4 linked regions of the Homo sapiens genome follow. The protein of the gene in region 4 interacts with the protein of the main gene of each other region in a biochemical or structural test. Each region holds a gene or a part of one and is shown on either strand. Other genes may lie near its edges.

What was found.
Region 1: the proteins of SRI (region 4) and ANXA7 interact in a biophysical measurement, tested with the Homo sapiens proteins (2 studies listed by BioGRID and IntAct, with this or other methods).
Region 2: the proteins of SRI (region 4) and RYR3 form a complex in vitro, tested with the Homo sapiens proteins (one study listed by BioGRID).
Region 3: the proteins of SRI (region 4) and RYR2 form a complex in vitro, tested with the Homo sapiens proteins (one study listed by BioGRID).

What each region holds. Positions count from the first base shown.
Region 1 is NC_000010.11:73,410,796-73,418,235, reverse strand, and holds the start of ANXA7 (annexin A7), read left to right. Parts: upstream 1-4,177; 5' UTR 4,178-4,224; intron 4,225-7,440. UniProt on the Homo sapiens protein: Calcium/phospholipid-binding protein which promotes membrane fusion and is involved in exocytosis.
Region 2 is NC_000015.10:33,306,351-33,314,238, reverse strand, and holds the start of RYR3 (ryanodine receptor 3), read right to left. Parts: upstream 3,273-7,888; 5' UTR 3,194-3,272; coding exon 3,143-3,193; intron 1-3,142. UniProt on the Homo sapiens protein: Cytosolic calcium-activated calcium channel that mediates the release of Ca(2+) from the sarcoplasmic reticulum into the cytoplasm in muscle and thereby plays a role in triggering muscle contraction. May regulate Ca(2+) release by other calcium channels.
Region 3 is NC_000001.11:237,611,942-237,619,357, reverse strand, and holds part of RYR2 (ryanodine receptor 2), read right to left. Parts: intron 5,320-7,416; coding exon 4,515-5,319; intron 2,073-4,514; coding exon 1,872-2,072; intron 1-1,871. UniProt on the Homo sapiens protein: Cytosolic calcium-activated calcium channel that mediates the release of Ca(2+) from the sarcoplasmic reticulum into the cytosol and thereby plays a key role in triggering cardiac muscle contraction. Aberrant channel activation can lead to cardiac arrhythmia.
Region 4 is NC_000007.14:88,217,034-88,224,400, forward strand, and holds the start of SRI (sorcin), read right to left. Parts: upstream 3,006-7,367; 5' UTR 2,994-3,005; coding exon 2,943-2,993; intron 2,192-2,942; exon of another isoform or gene 1,910-2,191; coding exon 1,826-1,909; exon of another isoform or gene 1,716-1,825; intron 159-1,715; coding exon 89-158; intron 1-88. UniProt on the Homo sapiens protein: Calcium-binding protein that modulates excitation-contraction coupling in the heart. Contributes to calcium homeostasis in the heart sarcoplasmic reticulum. Modulates the activity of RYR2 calcium channels.

The sequences.
Region 1 (7,440 bases), on a different chromosome or scaffold from region 4:
CCCTGTTCTCAAGGAGCTTACATTCTAGATGGGGACAGAAACAGTAAACACACAGAATTTCAGATGCTTTTTTTTTTTTTTTTTTTTTTTTTTTTTTTTTTTTTGAGACGGAGTCTCGCTCTGTCGCCCAGGCTGGAGTGCAGTGGCGGGATCTCGGCTCATTGCAAGCTCCGCCTCCCGGGTTCACGCCATTCTCCTGCCTCAGCCTCCCAAGTAGCTGGGACTACAGGCGCCCGCCACTACGCCCGGCTAATTTTTTGTATTTTTAGTAGAGACGGGGTTTCACCGTTTTTAGCCGGGATGGTCTCGATCTCCTGACCTCGTGATCCGCCCGCCTCGGCCTCCCAAAGTGCTGGGATTACAGGCGTGAGCCACCGCGCCCGGCCAGAATTTCAGATGCTTTTAAGTGGTATAAGGAAAATTAAATAATGAGCATAGCTGCTAGTGGTGGTTGTGCTGGTGGCAGCTACTAATGTTCAGGAAATACCTTGAGGAGATGACATTTTTTGTTTGTTTTTTTGAGATAGGGTCAGGCTCTGTCACCCAGGCTGGAGTGCAGTAGTGAGATCTTGGCTTACTACAGCCTCTGCCTCCCAGGTTCAAGTGATTCTCCCCTGTGAGCCTCCTAAGTAGATGGATTACAAGTGCACACTACTATGCCTGACTAATTTTTGTGTTTTTTGTAGAGATGGGGTCTCGCCATGTTGCCCAGGCTGGTCTCCAACTCCTGGGTTTCAGTGATCTGCCTGCCTTGGGCCTCCCAAAGTGCTAGGATTATAGGTGTGAGCCAACTCACCCAGCCAGGAGACCACATTTGAGATGACACCATGGAGAACATTCCCAGTAGAAGCAATAGCAAGTGCCAAGGTCCTGAGAATCTGGTGCATTTGGTCACAAGCTTGGTATGTTTGGACCGAAGGCCACTGTGTTCAGAGGTTAGTGATTAAGGAAAGTGAAGGCCAGGCGCCGTGGCTCACGCCTGTAATCCCAGCACTTTGGGAGGCCGAGGCAGGTGGATCACGAGGTCAGGAGATCAAGACCATCCTGGCTAACATGGTGAAACCCCGTCTCTACTAAAAATACAAAAAAATTAGCTGGGCGTGGTGGCAGTCACCTTTAGTCCCAGCTACTTGGGAGGTTCAGCCAGGAGAATGGTGTGAACCTGGGAGGCGAAGCTTGCAGTGAGCTGAGATTGCACCACCGCACTCCAGCCTGGGCGACAGAGCAAGACTCCGTCTCAAAAAAAAAAAAAAAAAAGTGAAAAGGGATTAGATGAGCGATGTAGGCAGGGACCAGATTATCTAGGGCTTAATAGACCATCAGGAGTTTGGATTTTATTTTATTCTGGTTCCAGTGGGAAGCTATTAAAAAAGTTTAATCACGGGAATTACATGACCCAATTTATTCTTTAGAAAGATCACTCTGACTCAGGGTTTCTTAACCTCAGCACTATTGACTTTTTGGGCTGAATAATTCTTTGTGTAGGGACTGTAGGCATTGTAGGATACGTACCTTGTTTAGAATCCTTGGCTTTCACCCACTAGATGCTAGTAACCCCACCACCTCCCCTCAGTTGTGACAAACAAAGATGTCTCCACACATTGTCAGGTGTCCCTGAGGGACAAAATTACTATTCTAATGGAACAAAAAGGATATGAACTTAAATACCAGACTCTGGGCCAGGCGTGGTGGCTCACACCTGTAATAATCCCAGCACTTTGGGAGGCCGAGGTGGGTGGATCACCTGAGGTCAGGAGTTCGCCTGGGCAACATGGCAAATCACCGTCTGTATTAAAAATATAAAAATTTAGGCCGGACGTGGTGGCTCATGCCTGTAATCCTAGCACTTTGGGAGGCTGAGGCGGGTGGGTCATGAGGTCAGGAGATCGAGACCATCCTGGCTAACACAGTGAAACCCTGTCTCTACTAAAAATACAAAAAATTAGCCAGGCGTGGTGGTAGACACCTGTAGTCCCAGCTACTCGGGAGGCTGAGGCAGGAGAATGGCGTGAACCCAGGAGGCAGAGCTTGCAGTGAGCCGAGATCGTGCCACTGCATTCCATCCAGCCTGGGCAACAGAGTGAGACTCTGTCTCAAAAAAAAAAAAAAAAAAAAAAAAAAAAAAAGCTGGGCGTGGTGGCGGATGCCTGTAATCCCAGCTACTTGGGAGGCTGAGGCAGGAGAATTCGTTGAACCTGGGAAGCAGAGGTTGCAATGAGCTGAGATTGTGCCATTGCACTCCAGCCTGGGCAACAGAATGAGACCCTGTCTCAAAACTACAAAAACAAACAAAAAAAAACCAGACTCTGATACAGTGGGATGTTCACATTAGAAGCATGATGGCTCTTATTTCACATGAACTCTGGAACATACCATGGCCTTCAGAGATGTTGACCAGGTATGGTGGCTCATGCCTGTAATACATCCAGCACTTTGGGAGGCTGAGGCAGGTGGATCGCTTGAGGCCAGGAGTTCGAGACCAGCCTGGCCAACATGGCGAAACCCCATCTGTACTAAAAATACAAAAAAATTAGCTGGGCGTGGTGACATGCCTCCCAGCTACACGGGAGGCTGAGGCATGAGAATCGCTTGAACCCCGGAGGCAGAGGTTGCAGTGAGCCTAGATCGCACCACAGCACTCCAGCCTGGGTGACAGAGCAAGACTCTGTCTCCAAAAAAATTAAAAAATTAAAATGGTCCAGTTGAGTACAAAAAAGAAGATCAGGAAGAGTTTATTGGAGCAAGACGGAGATGAGCAACCTTGAAAACAAGTCTAATTAAGATGAGTAATTGTTAAAAGATGAGCAGTGCTTTCTAAGCAGAGGTAGCAGGAGGAAAGGGTCTCCGATCCTGTAACGCCTTTTATGCCAGGAAGAAAGGATGAATTGAAAGGATGAAATGGCAAATGTCGTAGTAGACTATTGGACTATTCCTGCAGCTCAGGAAAGTGGGCTGGAAATAAGAGGTTTGGCAAATACCCTGTTATGGTGGTATTTAAGGCAGAGGGAGGGTTTGGAACGAGCTCACAAAGGGAACTCTAGAATGAACAGAGTAGGCTTCTCAGGGAAGGCTTAAATCCTGGAGGTCTCTGGGGTAGGTAGGACAGAAAGTCCTGTTATTTTCCAGGTAGACAGACTGTTGGGCGCCGGGGAATTAATGCTGGTCACCTAGAGAGTTGTGCATTTTGTCTACCATTGTTAAATGAGGCAATGACCTGCCTCAAATACTTTTCACTCCACACACCTATTTGGAAGCCACGTATATTTTGCTTGCTCTTCCCATTTAAAATCGTAATCCACTCTATTCCACCCCCATGAGGAAGCTTTTGGGTAGAAAAGTGTGTAGAGGAATAAGTAAGTTGATGTGCATCAGATGTGCAAACTTTAGTGTGCATCAGAACCACCTGGAAGGCTTGTTAAAACAGGTTGCTGGGCACCACCCGGGGAGTTTGATTCAGTAGGTCTAAGGTGGAGTTCAATAATCTGCGTTACTAACACGTTTCCAGGTGATGCTGCTGTTCGGGGGACCACACCCAGAAGCTACCTTTTACCACTCTAAAAGGTAGCTGATTGGTTTTCTCTGTAATATAAATTCCTTAACGAGTTTAAAATATTGATCTGAGCCCTCGTAATTGCCTCAAATGTTTAATGCTAATGTGTGTTCAATGCTGTAGCCACGAGGGGAGCCTAAAATCACCTAACAACTCCTTTCGGGAGTGATTTTGATTAGTTCATCTACAGTTCCAACTAAGATTTCCCACAAATATTACTTTCACAGGAGGCTAACAAAAAACGCCGTCTTTGTCCCCAGAAAATACCTGGAGGACGGTATTTCAGAGGCGGGGAGGCTGCACCAGCCTCCCAGTCTCAGCCCTTCTCTACCGCCCGCCACTGAAGGGGCCCCGGATACCCCCAGGACTGCTGCAACTTCCTAGGTGACTTGAGGCAGCCTTAAAAGGGATTGGTGCAGGGTCCTTGCGACAGATAAATGTGATTAAAAATCCGCTGGGCCACCCGAAGGGAGAGTCTTTTTCCCTCAGGTGGCGCCTAGGGGCGGGACTGAGGGACAGCCCGCTCCCCGCAGCGCCCTCTCCGGCTCCGGGGGTGTTCCCGGCTGCAGCCGCGATCCTAACGGGCTCGCGAGACGCCCCGCCCACCCTGGGCCCGCCCCCGGCTCCATCTTGCGGGAGACCGGGTTGGGCTGTGACGCTGCTGCTGGGGTCAGGTGAGGAGCGGCGCCCCCCTCCCTTTCCCACCTCGTCTGCCTCGGTGGTCTTGCCCTCGGCCAGCTCTGGGCGCTGCTGTCCCGGTGCTAGTGGGGCGCGGCTGGAGGGCAGTGTGGGCCTCCCGGATGGCGGCGACTCGGTTTGCGCGTCTCGTAGCCGGGCTGCCGGCCGGGGTGTGTTGGGGTGGCGTGGGTGAGGCGGCCGGCCTGGCTTACGGGAAGCCCTTCCGTCCGTTTGGAAATCCCAGGGACCAGTGGCGCCCCGCCCTCGGGCAGGTGGAGGGGCTGAGGCCGGAGCGTGGCCCAGCTGCCTCGCGGGAGGCTGAGTAGGGAAACGCACGGGCAGTGCTGAAAGCCGTCTGGCTGGTAGTGGCTGTACTTTCCGGTGACACAGCGAATTTAGGGAAACTTGGGGAAATTTTTACTGTGTTTAGTGAACCGTAGGACAGAATGCGCCAGGCCAAGGTCGTACACTGGTTCTCGTTTACAGTTCTTGGAAGCTATTCTAGAATAGCATTCCAGATTTGATTGCTGTTCCCCGACCAGCAGCAAATCTGTGTTGAAATTAGCTCATCCTGTGCAAACACTGCGCAAGGAAACCAAGGTGCAGAGGTAGATGGCTGATGTCCACCGTAAAGTGACAGACATGACGCTGTTGTCTTCCGACTGCCGTAAACGCCCTGATTTTTGCCAGCTGATGGCCAGCTAATCTGCTAAATGTGTCCGAATTAGATGATGAGTGTAATGAGTTACCTTCCAGGCAAGGAAAGAGTTTCAAGCACTGAATAGGTAAAAGAGATAATTTTGGCCACTGCAAACTTTCAGTCCTTTTCAGTGAGGACTGTCTTTCAGTCCTCACTGGTGGTTGGCTACCTACCTGTCCGTGCAGAGGACTAGCCATGCCTCCATGTTCTTTCTCCACATCACTGACGGATTTAAATGATCCTACCATACCTAGAAGCCGGTTTTGCAAAATTGTATTCGCTGTTGCGCGTATCTTCAGTCACCCTTCCTGTTTCGTGTATTTTTTCCCCCATAAATTTGCAACAGCTGCCTCTTGGGTTCCTGGGCTTCATGCCATCAATGAGAAACGGTGAGACCCAGCCCTTTTACTAACTGACTCACTGGGTGGAGGTGGTTTGGAAAACCAAAAATGATTTTCTAGTCTTTTAAAAGTGATTGCTAACAGAGAATGTTTAAAAAAAAAAAAAAAAAAGCCCGAGCGCGGTGGCTCACTCCTGTAATCCTAGCACTTTGGGAGGCCGAGGCGAGAGATTCACGAGGTCAGGAGGAGTTTGAGACCAGCTTGACCAACACGGTGAAACCCCGTCTCTACTTAAAAATACAAAAATTAGCTGGGCGTGGTGGCGCGCGCCTGTAATCCCAGCTACTCTGGAGGCTGAGGCAGGAGAGTCGCTTGAACCCGGGAGGCAGAGGTTGCAGTGAGCCAAGATCGCCACTGCACTCCAGCCTGGGCGGCAGAGAGAAACTCTGTCACAAAAAAAAAAAAAACCCAAAAAACTCTAGACTTACTATTCACTTGGGCAAAGTTGAGAAATTTTTTGAGTCACTCTGGGTGTTATTTAGCTTTTTACAAAAACGTTTAAAATCTGCCTCTTGAATAAATGATATATGTACAATTCTAAAAGGGCTAAAGTACATTGAAAAGTAAGTCTCGGCCGGGCGCAGTGGCTGTCGCCTGTAATCCCAGCACTTTGGGAGGCCTAGGCGGGAGGATCACGAGGTCAGGAGATCGAGACCATCCTGACTAACACGGTGAAACCCCGTCTCTACTAAAAATACAAAAATTAGCCGGGCGTGGTGGCAGGCGCCTGTAGTCCCAGCTACTCAGGAGGTTGAGGCACAAGAATCTCTTGAACCCCGGAGGCGGAGGTTGCAGTAAGCTGAGATCGTGCCACTGCACTCCAGCCTGGCAACAGAGCGAGACTCCATCTCAAAAAAAGAAAAAAGAAAGGTAAATAGTCTTCTCCATTGTGTCCCAGCTCTTCATCCAGGAAGCAGTCACTGTTTTCTACTTCCTTGAGTGTCCTTTCAGGGATATTCTATAAGTCAAAATCAGTGCATTTTTTACACATAATGGCAGCACACTATGCAGTTTTTCACTTTGCCTTTTTTTTTTTTCATTAATACGTGTTATAGATGGTTTCATATATGGGTAAAAGAAAAAGCTGCCTCATTTTTAATAACCACATAACACCTCCTTGTATGGCTATCCATAATCTGTTTCACCTGTCCCTCCTTTTTAAAAATTTAAGCAATGGCCCCGCACAGTGGCTCACGCCTGTAATCCCAGCACTTTGGGAGGCCGAGGTGGGTGGATCACCTGAGGTCAGGAGTTCGAGACTAGCCTGGCCAACATGATGAAACCCTGTCTGTACTAAAAATACAAAATTTAGCCGGGTGCGGTGGCACGTCCCAGCTACACGGGAGGCTGAGACAGGAGAATCGCTTGAACCTGGGAGGTGGAGGTTGCAATGAGTGGAGATCACACCACTGCACTCCAGCCTGGATGATAGAGCAAGACTCCATCTCCAAAAAAAAAGATAAAATTTCAACAGCTTTTGGAGTACAAGTGGTTTTTTGTTACATGGATGAATTATATGGTGGTGAATTCTGAGATTTTAGTCACCCAAGTAATGTACATTGTACCTAATGTGTAGTTTTTGATTCCTAGCCCCCTTTCACCCTCCCCTTTCTGAGTCTCTAAAGTCCATTATATCACTTCATACCTATGTCTTTGCATACTCATAGCTTAGCTTCCACTTACACAGTGAGAACATACGGCTTTTGGTTTTCCACCCCTGTATTACTTCACTTAGAAAAATGGCCTCCAGCTTCATCCAAGTTGCTGCAAAAGACATTATTTTGTTCCTTTTAATGGCTGAGTAGTATTCCATGGTTTATATATACCACATTTTCTTTATCCACTCAGTTGATGGGCACTTAGATTGGTTCCACATCTTTGCAGTTGTGAGTTGTGCTGCTATAAATATACATGTGCAAAAGTCTTTTTCATATAATGACTTTCTTTCCTTTGGGTAGATACCCAGCAGTGGAATTTCTGGATTGAATGGTAGATCTTTTTTAGCTCTTCAAGGAGTCTCCATACTGTTTTCTGTAGAGGCTGTATAGTAGTGTAATAAGCGGTCTCTTTTCCCCACATCCACACCAACATCTATTGTTTTTTGACTTTTT
Region 2 (7,888 bases), on a different chromosome or scaffold from region 4:
TAAAGATTCTGTCTATCTGCCTGATTCTAACTGGCATACATGACTGTCAGTGATTTCAGAAGGCCAGAAGAGGGTATATAGTTTTAGACTGCCTCCTTAAGGCTTGGGGTACAGTAGCATTTAGTTCACATGTGTTTAAGCTTCCAAAGCCCTTGTTTAGGTCTTGTTCCCTACTTAGGAGAGGGTGGGCTTCCAAATGTATCAGAGGACATAACCAAAATAAACACTACCACAAATAAGTGTCTAAAGCCACACCACACACACCTACAGTGGTTACTGCAGTAATTCTGGCTCATTTCACACTATCAATAGTTCTAGCTGCTTTCATTTTTGGCACTATTATAACAAACCTGACACTACAACCACTAACAATTTGATTAGGATCCTTGGCATAATGCTATTGTATGGTCTTTTTTTGTAAATAGGTTAAAAGCTTCTGCTCTCTGGGATGGCAATCCTTTAAAGTTCATGGTTACAAAGATATGATTCTATTCCATGGTCCAGTATGAGTCACCTTCTCATCCAGGACCATGTCGATGTGAGGAAGCATTATATATGACTAATACACTGCCAAAATGCTTTTAAAGGTGTTGTCTGGGGAGGAGAAAGAAAGCCTAAGGCAAAGGTAACTGAGTGAGTTCAAAGTGAAATAGCTTCCCTAACCCAGACATACCCAGAGGAGAGAAAAATCCCACTGCTAGCACAAGCCTGGTGTTCCCAACTACCCTAAAGTCAAAATTTTGTGCAGAGATCAAAAGCTTATGGCTATTGGATTCCAAAAAATCATTTTGTCGAATTCACAGATGAAGAAGGAGGATGCCAAGCTCAGAAAGCTGCAGTACTCCTCTTATGTTCTTAGGTATATTCTTAAGACTATATATAACATCTGGCGTAACGCTCAATGCCAGGCTCTAGCGGGAATGTAATTGAACATTGTATAATGAAAATTACCAATAACTTGTCAACAGCTATGTTCAAGTCACTCGATTTCCTGTGCTTCAGTTTCATCACCTATTTCCTTCCCAGTGAGCTAAAAACAAAGATGTTAAGGTGCCTCATAGGGTGAAGAAATGAGGAACACACCTTAAAAAATACATAAGGTGATAACTAGAAGGAAAAGAACCAATAACGCCACATTTGGAGTCACTGCCCCCATGGTTACCACCATCACTCGCTCTAAGCCATAACCGGTATGCAGTTCTCTGCAACAGGGGCTCTGAACCTGGGTCCTTGAACCCCACAGGCTGTCATGGGTGTACTTTAAAAGAGGTCTGCCAGCTCTGATCTCTAGGGCAGGAAGCCCAGGACACAAAACTTAAGAACCACTACTATAGTAAACCTTGGCTACAGGTGTACCAAAAACAAACAAAAACAAAAAACACTTACAATGCCAGATGGAGAGGAAAAGTCAGGGAAGATGGCTCAGAAGCCAAGAGAAAAGCATAAGGATCTCACAACAACTACCACCTTCCTAAGCCTCAACTCCCTGGGACATCTATTCAACACTGACCCTGTCTGAAGATAATTTTTTCAAGCAATAACGCCTAGAAGATCATTAATAATAAGGAGAAGAAATGACTGATCATGGAGGACACAAGGCAGAAAAAACCTGAGCTGCCACCCATCCACTACTAAAGACACCTGTCAGAGGGACAACCAAAGGATTTGATGGAGCTTTGAGGGGAGCAGGCAGCTTTATAACAATAGGGTTGTCATGAGTTGCAACTGTGGGGCCATCTTGTGTGCAGTGTGAGAGATGAGAATGGAGTCTGGGTCTGCAGGTCAGACGAAGGATGAAGAGATGAATACTCTAGCCTCTCAGTAGTACCAGCAGGGCGATAGGTACTTCCATACCCCCCCCAAATAAGACCCAAGTCCCAGCTTTGACAAAAGAACCATGTTTGGAAGAGAAACTGAAGTAAATTGGAAGGAAGCGCTTCAACAGGAGGAGAGTGGTTCAAAAGATGGACAAGAGGTAAGTTGTGATCTTCGAAGACCAGGTCATGGAGAAGGGGGCACCCTTAAAGGGAAGTGAGAGAGGGAAAGAAAGAATTTCATTCTAATTCCTGAGAGCAAGGCAGCGCATATAAAATTACCTAAGATTTACAGAGCGATTTGCCGTTTACAAAACATTATGACATTCACGATAACGTTTAATCCTTATCACCCTGAAACGCTGGTTACATTTTATTTTACACATGAGGAAACTGAGGCTGAGTAGGGCGGATTATGCGACTTGCTCAAGGTCACTTGGCTGAAGTCAGCGCTAGGATGCATCCCCAATGCCCCCACCCCTCCGGGTGGCCGTCCACCCTGAAAGTCTTTGTATTATCTCCTACAGGGCAAGGCTGGTGTGGCTGCAACAGACTTCGCCCCCTCACCCCCAAATCTGGGACGGAGCAGCGCCCTCAGGTGTCAAGGAGGGGACCTGAGTGACGCGGAGCCACTGACTGGGGTTTCCCTGTCCTGCGGGGCTCGCGGGAGCCAGGAGCAGAAGCCACAGCTCTCGAACACACGACAGGCAGTCAGTCAAGTCAGGCTCCAGCAGCAGTTGCCGGCGTGGGGCTTAACACGAGAGGGGCAGCGCTGGGTGAATTCCCCTCCGAGCGATCCCAGGGCTAGGACCAAGCGCCTGCGCCCGCTTCTCCGACCCGGCTCCCCACACTCCCCCCTGCCCCGCTGGCTCCTTCCCGGAGGTTCCCCTGTGCGTGGGGGCGCCCTGGAAGAGGAATGGGGCTGGGGTGGAGTATGGAGGTGTCAGAGGGCCGACCCCGGGGCGAGGGCTTCCAACGCCGATCTTATGGGTCAGGACAACCGCGAACAAACCCCGGCTGAAGTTTGGGCATCAAGGGTTTCAGACCAAGTAGCAAGTTGCCTGGAGAGCGAGCGGTCCTAGGTGGAGGGCCTGGGGCAGGGGTGGCGGTAGGGGAACAAGGGAGAGGCAGGAGATGGTGCCCCTTCCCACGCAGCCCCTCGCGGCCCCGCGGGTAGGTGGCCGGTCCGCCTCTGCAGCCCGCGGGTGCGGAGAAAGCGCCCGGCACCGGGCACCCGGCACCGCGGCGCAGCGCAGCCAGCCCCTCCTCGCCGCGCTCCGCGCTCCTCCCCACCTGCCCACGGCCTCGCCCCCGCCGCGGAGACTCACAGTCCTCAGAAACTGGATCTCGTCCTCGCCTCCTTCTCCCCCTTCGGCCATGGCTCCCGAGGCGTCGGCGGTGCCCCAGCCTCCGGCGCCTCTGCTTCCCCCGGCAGCCGCTCGGCGTGCGCTGACTGCTGCTGCGCTCTTTCTCCTCCTCCTTTTCGTCCTCGTCCTCCACCTCCTCCTCCAGCTCCTGGCTCAGCCTCAGCCTCAGCAGCGCCAAGCTAATCCCCGACCATATAGGGAGCTGGGCTAACACTCCACTGCACTGCAGAGCGCCAACGCCAACCAAGCAGTCCGCCCACCCCTCTCGCCTCTCGCCCCAGCCAAGTGCGCTGCGGCCGCCCGCTCCGTGGAGAGCGCAACGCTGGGCGCGTCGAGCTGGCGGGGGCGGTGCGGGGGCCCTGGGCTGGCGCGGTGGAGCCTCCCCCGCACCGCTGGGTACCGCACCGCACACTCAGCGGAGGCGCGCGCCCCGCGGCGACCGGAGGATGTCCCCTAAACTGCTCCAATTCACAAACAAAGGCCAGTTGCTTAGCTCCAGCGCGCCCAGACTGGGTACCAACCCTCTCGCTTTGCTCGCTTTGCCCGCTTTGCCCACTTTGCCTGTGTGTGTGTGTGTGTGTGTGTGTGTGTGTGTGTGTGTGTGACAGAGATAGAGAGAGAGAGAGAGGAAAGAGAGAGACAGAGACAGAGAGAGAGAGAGAGGAAAGAGAGAGACAGAGACAGAGAGACAGAGAGAGGAAAGAGAGAGAGACAGAGACAGAGAGAGAGAGAGAGAGAGAGAGAGAGATCTGGACTCGAATACCTTGCTAGGACCCGCGTGCATTGTTGGGCAAGGAGAAGACGGTGCAGTGAGGAGCGAGGGTGATTGTCCACTTACAACAAAGTTTGCAACTCCCTGGATAGTCCTTTCTACACCTTAAGAGAACCCCTTCCCCTCTTCAAAATTGGTAAGTACACTTTACCAAACCCCTGGATTGTCCAGGGTTGCTGTGACTTCTGTACCCCAGGGAGCTTCTGGGGGATCCTGTGCCACCCTCAATTTGGAAGTCAGGTGGCATCACAACCCTTCCTCTCTGCCCACCCCTAACCTTATTCTGCATTTAGAGTTCCAGCCCTGTGGACTCTAAAGGGAGTAGAGAGTAGTTACAGGAGGCTCCCTTCCAGGTCCTGGAAGGCTCCTACATCCCACCCAGCCTTAGGTCCTTTTCCATGGTTGGGGATTGCCAGATTGGTCCTTGCCTTGACTGACGGTGCAGGGTGCCCCCTTCTGTTTGATGGCCGAGAAGCTCCAAGGCAAGAGACTGTTCAAGGCAAAAGGCACCAGAGATGTAGATTTAGGAGGAAGTGCAACTGGGAAGGTGGTAATTCTGGGCTGATGATGGTGGAAGACACTGGAAACCCCAAGCCATTTCACAGCTTCATATACCGCCTCCTTGTGGACGACATCTATCTCTTGATGCTACCTTAAGATCTCTTTCCTGAGCTTCCGTCCCATATGTTCTGATGAACATCAGAAATGCAAAGAAAAATGTTTTTTTCTTGTATTGTACTCAAACTGCTACCTTCTAGGCTTCAGCTTGGGCCTTGTGCCTCTTCTGAAACCCGCCTAGAATAAGTCAAACCATCTGTACATTGTGGCCCTTCACCTCTTAGAAGGCATCTGCCATGCTTGCCTCTATGGCCCACCATCCACTCTTTTCTTCTCCTGGCTCAAGGTTCTTCTTAGCCCCAACTTTCCCTGTAGTATAGTTTCCAGAGCCTATGTCATCTTTGATGGCCATATGAGCATTCCAGGTGGTCTTCTTCCTGAATTGTTGTGCTCTCCGTCCTTGTTTTGGACAGTCTTTATGTGCAGCCTAATATTGGATTGGCTTCTGGAGAAACACTAATGACACTCACTGTGTTTGGAGTTAACTAGAATTTCTAGATTTACTTTTTTCCTCCCACGTGAACTGCAAAAGTCAGCTCTTCTCCATCTTGATCACATGCAAGTGCTTGAGTACCTGTGGGCACGGTGGCTCACGCCTATAATCTCAACACTTTGGGAGGCCAAGGCGGGTGGATCACCTGAGGTCGGCAGTTCGAGACCAGCCTGACCAACATGGAGAAACCCCATTTCTACTAAAAAAAAAAAAAAAATACAAAATTAGCCGGTCGTGGTGGTGCATGCCTGTAATCCCAGCTACTTGGGAGGCTGAGGCAGGAGAATCGCTTGAACCCGGGAGGTGAAGATTGCCGTGAGCCGAGATCATGCCATTGCACTCCAGCCTGGGCAACAAGAGCGAGACTCTGTCTCAAAAATATGTGTGTGTGTGTGTGTGTGTGTGGGTGGGTGTGTGTGTGTTCCTTCCAATTGTAATACCCAATCATGTATTGATGTCTCTATATGTGAACCTTTAAGGTATTTTTAAAGCTAGAGTATGCCAGGCAAGGTGCTAATTATTACTAACCTGTGATATGGCATACCTTCAGAATACTAATAGAGGCCCTCTTGGATTAACTTTCATACTTTTGATTATGCTTAATATGGCATACCTTCAGAATACTAATAGAGGCCCTGTTGGATTAACTTTCATACTTTTGATTATGCTTATTTAATGATCAAGAACTTACCTAAGTCAGAAAAATAATACCTATTGAGTACTATGCTTATTACCTGCGTGACAAAATAATCTGTACACCAAACCTCCATGACATGCAGTTTACTTATGTAACAAACCTACATATGTACCCTTGAACCTAAAATAAAAGTTATAATTAAAAAATAACCTACATAAATATATTATTTTGCAGCCCAAATTTCTTCTTGTTCATAGGGCTACTATAAATGCCTTTCTTACATACTTTACTGAAATACAGATATGTAATCTGGGACACCACCTCCCGCATCAGTCAAATAACCCTACCACAAAAGAAGTAAGAATGGAGTTCTGTAACACCATTGGTGCATCCACTTGGATTCCTGATGGTCTTTGTGTTCCTTTAGAGTTCCCAAAAGTAAGCTGTTTAATTATCAAAATCTAAGATTGTTCTGGAGCTCAGCGTATAAAAGAGTCTCAGGCTGTTGTTTCAGACTGTAAACTGGGGAAGGTGGACATTTACTTCTATTTGAAATCTATTGGTACTTCTTCCATTCTCTAAGATTTCCCAAAGATGCACCAATAATGATGCTGTAGTCATACAGGTACAGATAAATAGTAGTTCAGACACTGTGCTTTGATACTTGTTTTGCTATTAGTTCACCCATTAAGACCGGGAGAGAATAAACTAATAGTAAGTTACTTGTCTAAATTCATACATCTAGTAAAAGGAGTCACACAATCTCCTCTTACTTGGAGTAAAACAATCTCAATACTTTTCAGTACTTTCTCCACTATAGTGCCTTGCTTCTAGAACAGCAAAGTGGAAAACATCAGGTTCATACACCACCTCCATGCCCCCATACCCCATACACATTGGGTTTGCTTCCACACAGCCTATATTTTAAACTGAGTCTCTCTCAAGACCAGTTACTCTTAGTAGAGAGCCGGAGGACTTGGACCTTAGGTCTTAGAGGGTACTGTAGCTACTACATTTTGAAAGAAAAACCCAAAGCCTCCCAGGTTTCTAAACCTCTGGAGAAAGCTATCAGCCATTATTATGACTTCAATTAGGTGCACACAACAGGGAAATCAAATACCTTTGGGATACTGGCATGGTTCAAAGTCAGACCTCAAAGCCTGCTGTATTTGAATGTTGGGGCACTCTGCAGCCAATATCAACAGCAGGTGGAGAGCCTGTAGTGGGGGCCAAATCAGAAATTTTTCATTTTTATCATTATAGCACTTTTATACCTTTTACATATACAATTTTAAAGGCCTGACATTGAAATATTGTTATTCAATATTGACTATTGAAATAAAATTCATGTATTTATTTTCTCCTCTGGAGGTTCTCAAAGTATTGGTCCTAAGGATTTTCTCACATAAGAGGGCCTCTTATTTGTGTTTTAACAGTAATATTGCTATAGTTTTAAAATGCTAATGAAAATGTCCACACTCATATAAGTCAGTATCTCATTTGCTATGTTGTATTATTCATGGTAGCCAGTTGCCCAAGTGGTCTCAATGAGGCCAAGGATATGGATTCAGTTCTAGGAGGGCCAGTTAGCTTCACTCCATTTGCTGTCCAAAGACTCTGGCCCCTTCATTCTGGTTAAAAGTCTCATACATCTTTGTTCATTTAGCCATAGGGGAGGCAGGCTTAAGCTTTAACAAGCTAGGACTTCCCATGCTTGGAGACACAGAAGCTAAGAGGTCACACTTGATAAAGATAGCCTTCACCCATGTTACTAGCAATATATTAAATTCTACACAACACTAAATCTTTCTCCAATATCCATTTCAGCCTCACTTCCTAACTATAGCAGCCATCCATTTGCTGAAAATGCATTTCTTCCATTAATTGCGCTCATGGCTTTGGTCTGCATTGACTCAGGATTTGCCTAAGGAACATATAAAAGGGAATGATGCAAAGAACTGTAGAGTTGAGGGAACTGACTCTGCTAGCTACCATCTTTTAAAATATCTCACCATATACACAAGTACTATTATATACTGACTGAAGATTTATTTGTTTTTCATTAGCAAAAAGAAAAAAAAACACTTTTCTCTGCTTTTTGTTCAGGTGTTCCAAGGCAAGAAGTTATTTTCACCAGGGAAGCCTGTGAACAGAAAGAGCTCCTGAGACTACACCTGCTTTTAATTT
Region 3 (7,416 bases), on a different chromosome or scaffold from region 4:
ATTTAAAATTTCCATTTGGTTCTTTGCCATATATTTTGTTTCTCTGCCGTTGAGGCTTTCTATTTCTTTTCCATTTTGAAGGAATTACAGGGCGATTGCTTTCAAAACTTCATCAGATAATTTTAACATCTTTGTTATCTCAGTGTTGGTGCTTATTGATTGGTTTTTTCATTCAAGTTTTCCTTGGTTCTTCACACACATGATTTTTAATTGAAATCTCAACATTTTGAGGATTATGCTAGGAGCTCTGGGTCTTATTTTTAACTCTGTTTCACCTGGTTTCCTCTGACCCCATCCAGCAGGAGAAGGGCTTAGGGTATCTTATTGCTGCCAGGTGGGAGGCGAAGTCCATTTTCCCACTCAGCCTTCTTGGACATCTGGAGGAGGGAAGGGACCCTGTTACTGTTGGGCAGTGGTAAAAAGTTCTGGTTCCTCATTAGACCTGTACTGATGTGAACCTTGCTAGAAAGGTAAGAGTGTCTTGCTACTTCTCCTTCCATAACCTCTACTGATACTTTGGAAGAAATGGGCCTTGTTACTACTCAGCGGGGATAAAGTCCCAGCTCTGTCCTCTACTGGGACACCTTGTTACAGCCTGGTGAGAGTGGAAGTCAAGGTTCCCCACTCAGCCTGTGCCCAGTGTGGGTGGGGAACAGTTTTTTCTGTGGTTTTTGGCTTCAGTAGTGCAGTTATTATCTAACACATTTCTGTCTTGCTAAGCTGCCCCTTCCCTGATCCTTTATCTAGAAAGAGGAGGCTTTTGTTGCAGCTTTTCTTGTCTATGCCCATTGGTGTTTCCTGGTTGTCGTCTTCTTTAGCTTCAAATCTGGGATAGATGAGGCAAAAAGAAAATCCAGGGAACTCACCACCATGTTGTTCCTTGGGTCCTGAGTTCTGTAGCCAACCTCTCTTCTTCTCTCTATCTTTCAGAGCCTTCTTATGTTGTCTTCTTTGTAATGTCCAGGGTTTTAGTTGTACTTAAAAGGAAGAATCGGGAAAAGCACATGTACTCCATCTTTCCAGAAGCAGAAGTTTCCCAACAGTAGTTTAACAGAGTTAATCTGGAAGAGGCTGGACCTGTTCTCTGCTCAATAAATGCTGTTTATAACAATTAAGAAAATTCCACATCCCTTTCCTCAAAGAAATTACATTCTGGTGAGAAAAAAAAAAATTCTGTAATTAGTCCCTATAAACACTTTCATTCTGAGCTACCCTGGATAGAGAAGAAAATGGTAAGGGTAAGAAATCAAAAAAGACATCTGTGAATTACATTGTTTAACACCATCCCTACGCCAGTAACTTCCCACACTCTGAGGCCCACTCTGAGGTAGATTCCAGAAAATTTACATCCCCCAACTAGCCCATTCTCTGATATAGGCAGGTTCCCTTTGTTCTGTTGTACCCTCAGGAGACCTGACTTTGGGGGTAAGCAATGAAAGGAAGAAACCACAAGCAGGTAATCAGTCTTCCGGCAAGCAAGGTGGAAGAGACATGTGTTTCTTCTATGGTAGGCACAAATGGAAAGCCTCTAGCATCGAGTCCTAGGAATCAAAAATTCCTATGAGTGGAAGATGATGAAGACCCATTTGTGGTTGAAATTTGCTCCTATTTGAAGAACTTCAGACTCTGGCATATCTTGGCCTTCTCAAAGAGTCGGTGATATACCTGATATCTTCTAATAAGTCCCTCTTTTGTGTAAACTAACCAAAGAAATTCTTTTGGTGAAACTAAGAATACTAACTAAATCAACTTGAAGACTTTAAACAGAACAAGGAAAACAAGACGTGTGAGTTATATAATTTTGCAAGGCAGAGATCCTGAATGACTAAAAGCCAACATAAATACGAAGAATTTTCATTTCATTTCTGTACCTGTTCTTGAGGTGGTGATCTAAATTCCTTTGTCTTCCTGGCTGTGAGTGCAGCTGACATGTTTAAGGCTTGCATGACTTCGTTGTATCGGAAACGTTGATTGTCTTGGAGCTTAGCCACAAAATCATCTGAAAAGGCTACAATGGCTTCTATCCGGTGCCGGACCTGGCAGTCACAGAGGTACTGAAGCAGTAGGCACATCTAAGAGACCATTAAAAAGACACCAAATTTAATTTCTAAATCCTTTAATAATGTGTATGAAATCATAATCTGTGGTAAACATCCTTAGTTGCCTACTCTTCTCTCTTAGAAACAGAATCCTGATTTTGTATAGGCAGCAATGTGCTCGGTCCCAGGAGATGAAACATAATTTGTATAAGCAAAAATGGCAAACAAATGTCCCTTTAGTGGATGTTAACTGATATGGTCTGGTTCTTTCCCCATGAAATCTCACCTTGAATTGTAATAACCCCCACATGTCAAGGGCGGGGCTGGGTGGAGATAACTGAATCATGAGGGTGTCTTCCCCCATGCTGTTCTCGTGGTAGTGAATAAGTCTCACAAGATCTGATGGTTTTATAAATGGAAGTTCCCCTGCACATGCCCTCTTGCCTGCCACCATGTAAGATGTGACTTTGCTCCTCATTTGCCTTTCGCCAGGATTGTGAGGCCTCCCCAGCCATGTGGAACTGTGAGTCCATTAAACCTTTTCCCTTTATAAATTACTCAGTCTCAGGTATGTCTTTATTAGCAGTGTGAGAACGAACTAATACACTTACCCTCCCAGCCTCCCTTTCAGCCACAGGTGCAATGGCCAATGAAATATATAAGGGAAAGTTTGCTAAGGGTCTTCTGGGAAAGTTATTCCATCAGTGATAAGAGACTAGAGTTCCCTTCTTTCAAAATGAGTGTAACTGGGTGATGACATGATTACTGCAGAAAGAATAAGGTGAGCATTTTAGGAAGAAAACCACAGGCTGAGGATCACAGAGCAGAAAAATATTAAGATCTGGGTTATGGATGAGATCATTGAACTGCTGTACCAATTCTAGAAATCTAAACTTAAGACAATTAAGTGGTGAATGCTCATTCATTCAGTGATTAGCTGGGTCTTTCTCCTACTGAAAACCAAAAGGATTTATAACTGAGTGAGTATGTTGGTAGAAACATTTCTAAGAGAGAATGCTCTGCCAAATTTTTAAAAAAATCTATACACTCAATACCAATTGTGATATAAATACATGACAGTGTCAAAGAGGACCTTAAAACCCTCTGTGTCACCATCTACAATATAACCATTTCTATCAGTGCTGTCTCTGAAGTAGTCACAGTGTCCAACCCCTTTTCTCCATCTCCTTTGCCCCACCCTCCTCTGAGCATGGTCTCCTAGAGTTTGGACCAGCAAGAAAGCCTCCTGACTAACCAGACACTAGATCACACTCTCTTTCCTCCCTTATCGATTTTCCTACCAGCAGCCACACTGGCCTTTTCCTGCCTCAGGACCTTTGCTGGGCTATTTGTTTTGCATGGAAAGCTCCTAGAACACCCTGCCTTGTTCCTTTTTCTTGTAACTGCTGAGCACAACTCTTAAATCTGAACTCAGCTTAAAAGTCAAAATCTCTGAGGGGTCTTCTCCCTCATCTTTCTAACAGTAATCCAGTCTAAATGTTCTTTCTTTTAGTAATCCATTCTTTGCCTTCAGAGTATTTAATGCAATTAGCAATAAGATTTTTTAATGCATAAATGAGTGTATATTTCCTTAGAGGCTGTGAGATTCTGAAAGGCAGGGTTCACTTGTGTTTCCCCTAAGTGCATACCCAGAGTAAGGCTTCAGTCAACGCTGACTAAAGGAACGAGGAGCAAAAAAGCAGGTCAGCGATGCAAACATCCAATTGACTTTAATAAACAGAGGAGACATTAATAAAGGACCCTTTAGACATCTTGAGGAGCATAAAGACAGCCAGTGTGTCTGATTCCTTAAAAACATACTAAGGTGGCTGGGTGCAGTGGCTTACACTTGTAATCCTAGCATTTTGGGAGCATGAGGAGTGAGGAACACTTGAGTCCAGGAGTTTGACACCAGCATGGGCAATAGAGCGAGACCTCATTTCGACTAAAAATAAAAAAAAATTAACTGGGCATGGTGGCATACCTACAGTCCCAGCTGCTGTAGAAGCTGAGGTGGGAGGATGGCTTGAGCCCAGGAGTTCTAGGCTGCAGTGAGCTATGATTGCACCACCACTGCACTCCAGCCTGGGTGACTGAGTGAGACCCTGTCTCAAAAGAACAAAACAAAAGCATACTAGGGGAAAGTAAAACCTTGCTATGTGACAATGGGTGCATCTACTGGTAAACAAGTATTCTAAGGTTGGTAAGAGTGGAAATATGGGTGGAAAGGGGTATTTGATGGCTTGTATTTCAGGTATTCCAATGTAATGAAGGTAAAAAGCATCTGGGAAACAAGAGGAGATGGCTAATGAATAAGAGGGAAAAGAATAGGAAGTTAGTTAATTTTATGAAGAACTACCATTACACAGGAATGCAAAGAAATAAACACACACACAGAGAAAGAAACAAAGGCATGTTCTAATACCTTAATGCTTAGCAATTCTGAAATTCACTCAAGTCTCTTGTTCTGATTACCTGCAATTTAACTGGCTCTGGCAGTTTCATTTGGAGCAGGCCTTCCTTGGGCCGCTTGCCCCCCTTGGCTTCTTCCTCACCAGCTCCTTGCAGCTTTGCATCGTCCACACTGAGCTCTTTCTCCAGCGTGTCACTCTCCTCCTCCGGAGTGGCAGCTTCTTTAAACACACTGGGCTCAATCAACTGCAAGATGTGCTTCAAGTCCTCGTTGTGAAAGATGCCCATGATCAGCAGGGTATAGAAAAGCTTGATGAGAGGTACAAAGAGGAATTCAGTAGTCCCTCCAACTGGGTCCCGGGCATGAAGACTGCCCTCTTTAACAGCTTCTGTCAGCATCTGTATGGTTTTGGACTTGAGGATGTCCAGTGGGAACTCTGGACTGTACTGGTAACATTCATTACTAATGCTTACAAAACTGGGGGAGGAAAACTGCATCCGTGGCCTGAGGGAGGTGCTGAGGCCGATCCCTGGAAGGCCGTGTTTTTTGTTCTCATCAGGGAACAGGGTGATGCTCTTCGTCTCCTCCGTCATGGGGACAATGTACTCGTTGTTCATCATGAGCCTGGCAGTGGCATAGGAGCTCAGGTGGATGTCAATCAGCAGGTCATAGTAGCCAGCACGCAGCAAACCAGGCATGTACTTGTTCTCAATGGCATAGAGGAGCTGAGGTTCATCCACATGGCTGCACAGGGCATGGGCCACCCGGTGGTTCCCAAGAGCACAGACGGCTGAGTAGAGCCGGAGAGTGTGATAGTGAAATTTCAGCAATTCCTCCTGCTCTGTCAACTCTAAGATGTCAACAGATCTGTAGAAGGGAGGAGAGTGGTAGTAAGATTAGAAATGAATGATTTTTTAAAATCTGAATCAGAGGAGAAATCAGTATGCACTGTAAATTTGAAGGAAAAAAGTTATGGGAATAGACACTGCAGGTTGAACATCCCTAATCTGAAATGCTTGGGACCAGAATTGTTTGGATTTGGGACTTTATTCAGACTTTGAAATGTTTGCATTATACTTACCGGTTGAGCATCCTGAATCTGAAAGTCTGAAATGTGAAATACCCCATTTCCTTTGAGCATTATGTTGGTGCTCAAAATGTTTCCGATTTTGGAGCATTTCGAATTTCAGATTTTTGGATTTGGGACACCCAACCTGTGTCTTCTTTTAATTTTCTATGACATGTTTAATGGCTGCATAGTACTTTTAATCATTTCTAGATGTTCTACAAATTTTCTTCTACATAGAATTTGACATTCATCTAGCACCTCCTTCCTCCTCCATTGTATCAAGGATCTGTGGCAATGAGCCGAGATCGCGCCACTGTACTCCAGACTGGGCAATGGTGAGACTCCACCTCAAAACAATAGATAAATAAAGAAACAACAACAAAAAAGTCTCTAGTGGAGAAATTTCTTTCATATGTCATTGTCATTCAATTGTTCATCAAATATCACTGAGTGCCTATTATGTATTAGCACTGCGCACTGATGATACAATGGTGAATAATATAGACATGATTCCTGCCCCCAGGGAGCTTATATTCAATTGAGGGAGTAAACCACCCCCGCTGACCAAAATGGAGTAAATTAAATTATAAACTGTGACATGTGTTAAGGAGAAACAAAGTACACACTGACATAAATCTACCACCATTGCACACTTTAAAATATTAATGATTTGTCATGTTATTGGGGCATCAGATTCTTCTCAACCATGCTAGTTAAGACTTCCTTTTTTGGAATTTGGATTTTGAAACTCATCATATTTTTCTTTGGCTGCTAGGAAGAATGAAATTAATGTGGGCCCCAACTCTACCAATCGGTGTGGTATAAATGACTGTGTGTCACTCTTAGCCTCAGTTTTATTTTCCTATCCATATATTTTCTATGGCCTGATGCCAGTGACACATTTTTATACATTCATGTTCCATATCATTTGGAAAACTGCCTCAAATCCTTTATGATCTTTAGTGAGAGTTTACATTATCCATTCACATACATACACATCTATCACAGGCAATTAATATAAACTACTGAGACAAGGTGTTATGTTGGTTTTCGATGATAGCATGCCAAAATGTTAAATTATAATGTTAAAATTCCATGCTCAGTAGAGACACAACGTTTTCCTTCATAAACAAGAATTCCTTCCCAAATGTTGTGTTTGTTTTGGTTGTTCGGTATTTTCTTAAAAAACATCATCAGATGAAAAATTATGATAAAACTCTTCTCACAAAAAAAAAGAATACAAAATTAAAATCAAACTGAACCATCTCAAGAGTACATTATGAAAGATATCTAATTACCTCATGTAAAAAATGTAAATACATATGTAATACATAAAAAGAATTAACTAGCCAGATTAATTTTTCTTTGATTTTCTTTTGTTTTAAAATATCTTTGTTGAACTGTAATTTACATGCTATACAATTTACCTACTTAAAATACATAATTTAATAGTTTATGTATATTAATGGAGTTGTGTAACTATAACTATAAGTTGAGTTTAGAACACTTTTATCATCCCAAAAGGAATTTAGTACCCATTAGCAGTCCTGTTCCGCTCCTAGCCCTAGGTAACTACTAATCTACTTTTCGTTTCTAAAGATTTGTCTATTATGGACTTTTCAATTAAATAAAATCCCACACTAGTAGGATTCTTTCACTTAATATACTTCCGTGACTGGTTTCTTTCACTTAATATAATGTCTTCAAAGTTCTTGCATTTTGTAGCATATATCAGTACTTCAATCATTTTTATTGCCAAATAATATTATATGGATATATCACATTTTGTTTATTGACTCATAAGCTGGTGAACATTTGGGGTTCCCTTTCTTTTACTATTGTTCATAATGCTTCTATGAATATTCATGTACAAGTTTTTGTGTGGACATATTTTA
Region 4 (7,367 bases):
AGTTTTCTTGAAGGCTGTAATCACAAGTAACAGCTAAGATAGGAAACACAAGAGTATATTTAGACAAACTTTGGGACTGTCAACTTACGTTTGTATCCTCCAGCAATGCCAGACTGTGTCAGACATCTCTGCAATTCATCAGCATCTATCTGCCCATCCTTTTGAAAAAAAATTAGAGGAATCATAATAGTGATTTGTACTTTCAAGTTGTTTACCTTCAGCATTCAATGAAGCAATAACAACAAAGAAAATCAGTATCTTTTTTTTATTTAAAAGGAATGCCTTTTTTTTATTAAAAGGAATGCCTTCCAAAAGTGGGCATTCTTTTCCTTAACCCACTTCCAAAAGTAATTTAATGATGAAAGAAAGAGTCTGTCTTGGCAACTACTCTTCTCTCAATCTGAGCTAGCAAACTGCTACAGCTAAACATTTTAAAATATTTTTTTTTGATGGGGGTGGAGAGAGCAAGGTACAAAGCAGACATCAATAAATAGAAGGCTTGGTTCAAACAGAAAAAGGCCTCCTTGGTCACTTTTTCTTATGATATAGTGAATCATTTTTTTCAGAGCACAAATACATCTGGAAGATTCACATTAGGTTCCCAGTGCCCATTCACTGGCTGAACTGGGAAAGAACTAGATATATGTGATTTTTAGGGACTTTAAAATAAAATACCTAAATCTTCAAGTCACTGGGTATTATAAGTTATAAATGAGGAGCAAGATCAGCAATTTGAAAGACAATGGGTATGCTGAATACAGGCCAGGGCTGCTGAAAGCTAAGCAGGTGGAGTCACTTACATGCTGGAGGCACTGGCAATCTAAGAATGCTAGTCTTGAGGTTTGCCATGCCTTGTGGTTTCAAAGATACAGATCATTAACAGTTTAAGTAGATACTTAAGGGGAAGGTCTTCCAGTTTTAGACTATATTTTCCATTCAATTTCTTAAGCTGTATTTCTTAGAGTACTACCTTAAAAGTGGTCTTAGGTTTTTTATCCCATAATATTCTACAGTTTTCACATTAAGATTTTGCTATTTCTAGCTTTTGGTCAAAACAAAACTAGGTTGAATTCATAAGAACAAACATCTCCTCTGGACGTGTCTGGGTTATACCAACAGTATATTTACTGCACACAGTGACCTCATGAACTAGGGAAGTGTCCTCTCTCAATGTAAGATAGCACCTGTCAATGTAAGATAGCACCTGTCATACAACTCAGAATGCAGACAAGTGAAAGGTCTTGGGGAGCTGACCTTAATTGCTTCTCTGGGTCAACAGGCCAGAACACCTAATAAGGACATGGAGGGGCTGACCTAGTAACAGCATCTGCATCAAAGAGAAACTACACTGTTCACAAGATTAACTTTCTGATACTAAGAAGGGAACAGTAACTTCCTTATTTAGAAGCTGGTGGGTTTTTACCATATTTCCTAAGGGGGTGAATGATTAGCAATCAAGTTCAACCCAAAGAAAGTGCCCATTAGAATCGAGCTATGTAATTACTAATATATGTCTTTAAGTTGTACAAACAAGCGTTTATATTTACCAGATCTTGAATTTTTTCGCTTGAAACCATCCTGGACCCTTTAATTCAACCACAAGTTTGCTTTCGAACTGAACTCACATAAATACGAGTAACACTTTGTCCTCATTTATTCTGAACATTCAGAAATAAAAAACTAAAATAAGAAACAACTTTTTTTTTCTTTTGCAGAAGCAAAGGGACTCAGTACCACAGGAAGTTCGCTTTTCTGTGTCACTATATCAAAAGCTACCACAAATGCAGACAATAACGGCTCTTTAATATTAAAGGGAAAAGCTAACCTGTCCAGCTACAGCAGCAAAGTAACCATACAGCGGATCCTGAGTTTGTCCGGGAAACGCAGGCCCTCCGGGAGCCCCTCCATACTGTGAAACAGGAAACACATACACGTCATTCTGCCGAATCAAGTTTTCTTCTTTCACCACTGAGGGCTTTTGTGCAAGGCCAGACAACTGCCCGCCTGCCCGCCCTTCACAAGGCTCACCTCCCCACCACCGGGCACACTCTGCCAACACTCCACCCCTCTCTTCCATTCACACCCCGTAATTTAAAAACTGGCGACTTAGACCATAAAGAGTTGCTGTGAAAGTGATGTCTACATATGTAAAGCAACTTTTAAAATCCCTATTAACCTGAAGGTTACTGAGGTGAGTGCAAACTAGGTAAGCCAACGAATGGCAGGGCTTCAAATTCTCCTTTTGTTGTTACAGCATTTATGGTATTTTAAGAGCGTTTTATGAACGATGGAAGGCTGGAGTTGGTAACATTCTGAGACGGGTGTAGCCTAGGGAAGAGTAAGGTGTCCGGCCGGGCTGTATCTCGTGGGTGGCGAGGGAACATTGCCTGTCTCGGAAACAGTTCCCAAGACAACGCGCATCCCAGACGCCCGGCGAGGCTGCCTTCCTACAGGTCTTTTACTTCAGCAGGTTTTCCCTTTTTTTCCGTCCCCCTTCTCACTCGTTTTTTGTTTGTTTGTTTGTTTGTTTGTTTGTTTGTTTTTTAAAGGGAGGAAGGTATATCATTCTAGAATAAAATGACTGTTGTTGCTCTGGGAGGCAACCAAGAAGGCGGGGGTGGGGTGGGGTGGGGGTCAGCCAACACCCAATTAACACGATTTCACGCCGCGTATCCGAGAAGCCGCAGGGTGGGCTTCTAGGGTCCCAATCCACCCTCACCTTGGCCCCGCAGGGCCATCCAGGAGAAGGGACGGGGAAACGTGGGGAGAGGCCGAACCCCAGGGGCCTAGGGCGAGGCCGCGAGCGCAGGGAGAAGCCGAGGGCGGAAGGAGCCCGGGTAGCCGCCCAGCAGCGCCTCACCCCGCTGGCCGCAGCATCTCCAAGGTGGCCTCTTAGCGCCCCGGAGCCGCCTGGGCCGCGATCCCGCGCAGTCAGCACTTACCCCGCCTGGGTAGTACCCGCCGCCGGCGCCAGGATGCCCCGGGTACGCCATGCTGCAGACTGCGCCGCAGCCGCCCTCGCCCTGTGCGCCAGGCCTCTCCGCCCCCTGCCCCGCCCCGCCCTGCCGCTAGGGGGCCGCCCCAGAGCGCACCACGCGGGCGTGGGGGACGCGCTCCGCAGTCGTCTCCAGCTCTTGCCTGTGCGCGCGGCCGTGGCTCCCCTGCCTGCGCGCTTCTTCGTATCTTTGCCATTACGGCGCTAATGCAGTGCACGACTGAAGGTCCAGTGGCGGCCTACGACCTGCGAGGCAATTCACACCAGGGACTTTCCTCCCTCCAAAACTAATGGCACATTCCAACACCAATACACCACCCCAGGAATTCTTTTTTTTTTTTTTTCCTTCGGACTTGGCTATTATCTGGCACATTTCTTATTTTAAACAACTTTATTGGACAGGACGGAGCTATTATAAGCGGAGCGCACCATCGCGAGGCAGGGGCTGGATGCGTTAGGGCAAGCCTTAGGTGCCAGTGGGTGAAGGAGTCTTTGAAAGATGGAAATACGAAAGCGCCCTTGGAAAATAAGAATTAACTTGACGAACTGTGTGCAAGGGAGAGTTTGGCTTGCTGTTGGTTGCAGAGTTCACTGAACGACAACGGCGTATTTCCTTCCTAGGGGACAATTCCTTGCCTGTTTAAGCTGAGCGTGACTTGTGTCCTGAGTAGGACAGAGGGCATTTTCCGGGCAGGACAGACTCACACATATCGTTCTTAGGAAAATGAATTGTTTGAATTATCTGGATGATTCAGACAAAACAATCCATTTCCCTAAAAGTATTCAGCTACTTTTTATATAAGAAAAGTTTAGAACAAACTAATAGTGTACTGGTAAGTATTCAGGAAGATAAGAGATAGGAACTTCTATGTAGGTTATTCTTCTTTACTTCATATATTTTTCTATCTTCCAGTTGAATAGTCCGAAGCAATTCAGGCGTGAGCTTTTTGTTTTGTTTTGTGTAATTTCAATGACAGAAAATTGCTTGCCCTTCACTGTTAAGGACTAGACTTAATGATTTCCTGAATTTTAACGTATTGAGAAACGCATTAATAAGCAAGATTCACAGTATTTGTTGTGGAGGTTGCACAGAAACATTTAAAGGGTCATCAACATTTCACAAATATTGGAGCACCCGCCAATGTGGTACTGTGCTTTTTCGCTGTGGTGGACGGGCTTCCTCCATTCTAAATTCGTGGGCTATTGTCCTCATTCGGTTCATTGTTTTTCTCTTGTGTGTAACTTCCCTCGCAAGCCCTTTTGAAAACCAAAGTCCGAATTGTGAGAAAAATTCTAATAGTCCCTGTTGTGGCATAGCAAAGACACTGCATGTTGCCTGTTTTGTGTTTGATTCAGGAAGCAGGTTACTGTTTTCAATCATCAAGGTAGCAATCATCAAGGTAGATGAGACATCTAATGAGTCCCCTGGTCTCTCTTTGGAAGCCTGTTTCTTCAGAAAGAGGTAACCGACTATAAAGAGTAGATGTCAGGGCCGAACTCGATGTTGAGTACAAGCTCAAGACTCAAGTTTGAAAGAAGTATAAAGCATATAAAATATTTTTAAGTACTGCAGAATTAGCTTCGTGGATAAACGGCTATACGAATTGGCATATCAGTTGTCCTTAGACATCTTCCCACTGCTTTACTGCTAAAGAATTGAATTTTTTTTTTAATTACACTTTAAGTTTTAGGGTACATGTGAACATTGTGCAGGTTGGTTACATATGTATACATGTGCCATGCTGGTGCGCTGCACCCACTAACTCGTCATCTAGCATTAGGTATATCTCCCAATGCTATCCCTCTCCCCTCCCCCCACCCCACCACAGTCCCTAGAGTGTGATATTCCCCTTCCTGTGTCCATGTGATCTCATCGTTCAGTTCCCACCTATGAGTGAGAATATGCGGTGTTTGGTTTTTTGGTCTTGCGATAGTTTACTGAGAATGATGATTTCCAATTTCATCCATGTCCCTACAAAGGACATGAACTCATCATTTTTTATGGCTGCATAGTATTCCATGGTGTATATGTGCCACATTTTCTTAATCCAGTCTATCATTGTTGGACATTTGGGTTGGTTCCAAGTCTTTGCTATTGTGAATAATGCCGCAATAAACATACGTGTGCATGTGTCTTTATAGCAGCATGATTTATAGTCCTTTGGGTATATACCCAGTAATGGGATGGCGGGTCAAATGGTAATTCTAGTTCTAGATCCCTGAGGAATCGCCACACTGACTTCCACAATGGTTGAACTAGTTTACAGTCCCACCAACAGTGTAAAAGTGTTCCTATTTCTCCACATCCTCTCCAGCACCTGTTGTTTCCTGACTTTTTAATGATTGCCATTCTAACTGGTGTGAGATGGTATCTCATAGTGGTTTTGATTTGCATTTCTCTGATGGCCAGTGATGATGAGCATTTTTTCATGTGTTTTTTGGCTGCATAAATGTCTTCTTTTGAGAAGTGTCTGTTCATGTCCTTCGCCCACTTTTTGATGGGGTTGTTTGTTTTTTTCTTGTAAATTTGTTTGAGTTCACTGTAGATTCTGGATATTAGCCCTCAAACTATACTACAAGGCTACAGTAACCAAAACAGCATGGTACTGGTACCAAAACAGAGATATAGATCAATGGAACAGAACAAAGCCCTCAGAAATAACGCCGCATACCTACAACTATCTGATCTTTGACAAACCTGACAAAAAGAAGAAATGGGGAAAGGATTCCCTATTTAATAAATGGTGCTGGGAAAACAGGCTAGCCATATGTAGGAAGCTAAAACTGGATCCCTTCCTTACACCTTATACAAAAATCAATTCAAGATGGATTAAAGATTTAAACGTTAGACCTAAAACCATAAAAACCCTAGAAGAAAACCTAGGCATTACCATTCAGGACATAGGCATGGGCAAGGACTTCATGTCCAAAACACCAAAAGCAATGGCAACAAAAGACAAAATTGACAAATGGGATCTAATTAAACTAAAGAGCTTCTGCACAGCAAAAGAAACTACCATCAGAGTGAACAGGCAACCTACAAAATGGGAGAAAATTTTCGCTACCTACTCATCTGACAAAGAATTGAATTTTAATGGAGTGTTGCAAATTCAATTCTTACAATTATTGCTAACAAATTGGTCAGCTGCTAATACTTTAGTTTGCTGGAAAAAATTGTGGCAACTTATAATACCATCAGACATATATATAATAATAAAAATATGCCAGATCCTCATCGCATTTTACTTATTTGCTTAATCTTAATAAAAACCCATGGGATAGGTACTATTGTCATTCCTATTATACAGTTTTGAGGAAGGGGAAGGAACAGAACAGAGCTGAGCTATGCTGCCAAGCCATCTGACTCTAGAGTCTGTGCTCTACACCCAGGGGCAGGTAAAGGGCCAGGTAGTAAATATTTTAGGCCTGTGGGCCATACAGTCTCTGTATGAGAGAGTCTACATACATAGTGGTATGTAGACTATGTAGTCATAGTGGTATGGCCAAATACCACTCAACTCTGCTGTGTAGGCCACAAGTATCCATAGACAATAGATAAATGAATGGATGTCGCTGGGTTCCAATGCAACTTTATTTATAGACACTGAAATTTGAATTTCATATGACATGAAATATTATGCTTAATTTTATTTTTCCAACCATTTAAAAATGTAAATATTATTCTGAGCTCTTGGATGTACAGAAATAGGAGGTGGGTCAGATTTGGCCTTTGGGCAGTAGTTTACCAACCACTGCTGGAAGCCCCTCCAGAATGCGGGCTTATGACTCTGGCAGTTTAGCACTTTAGCAAATGATTTGCTGACTGTAAGATAAAGCCTATGGGTAGAATACAGTTATTTGTCAGAACGATTTACTAAGTCCTAAAAAAAAGACTGTAGGAGGGTTGTGACAACAGCATGGGTTAGGGAGAGAACTATGTGAGGTTTATAGATAGGATGCAGGTCATGGTTATTTTGGGAAGTCATTGGAATTACAGAAACCTTTCTGATCATATACTCCAATCCTGCTGTTTACAGAAGAAAAGACCAAGGCTGAGAGATGGCAAATATCTGGCCCCAGCTCTTGAAGAGCAGACCTAGCCAGATGTAGATATTTCACCCTTCCCAATTAAAGCTGTGACAGTAGATAAACATGCTCTCAGAGAGAATCCCATTCTTTTGTGGTACACCTTCCCTAATTATGTTTTCAAGACAAACGGCAGTGTGGACACTTTCTTATTCCTGGAGAAAAGTTAATATAAAGCTCTACATATAGTATCCAACCTGGACTTCTTCGCTCAGATAAGTGGTGAAAGAAATAGTGTCTAACTAAGTAACTGTAGTTATTTCACCATACCTGCAGTTGAATTAAC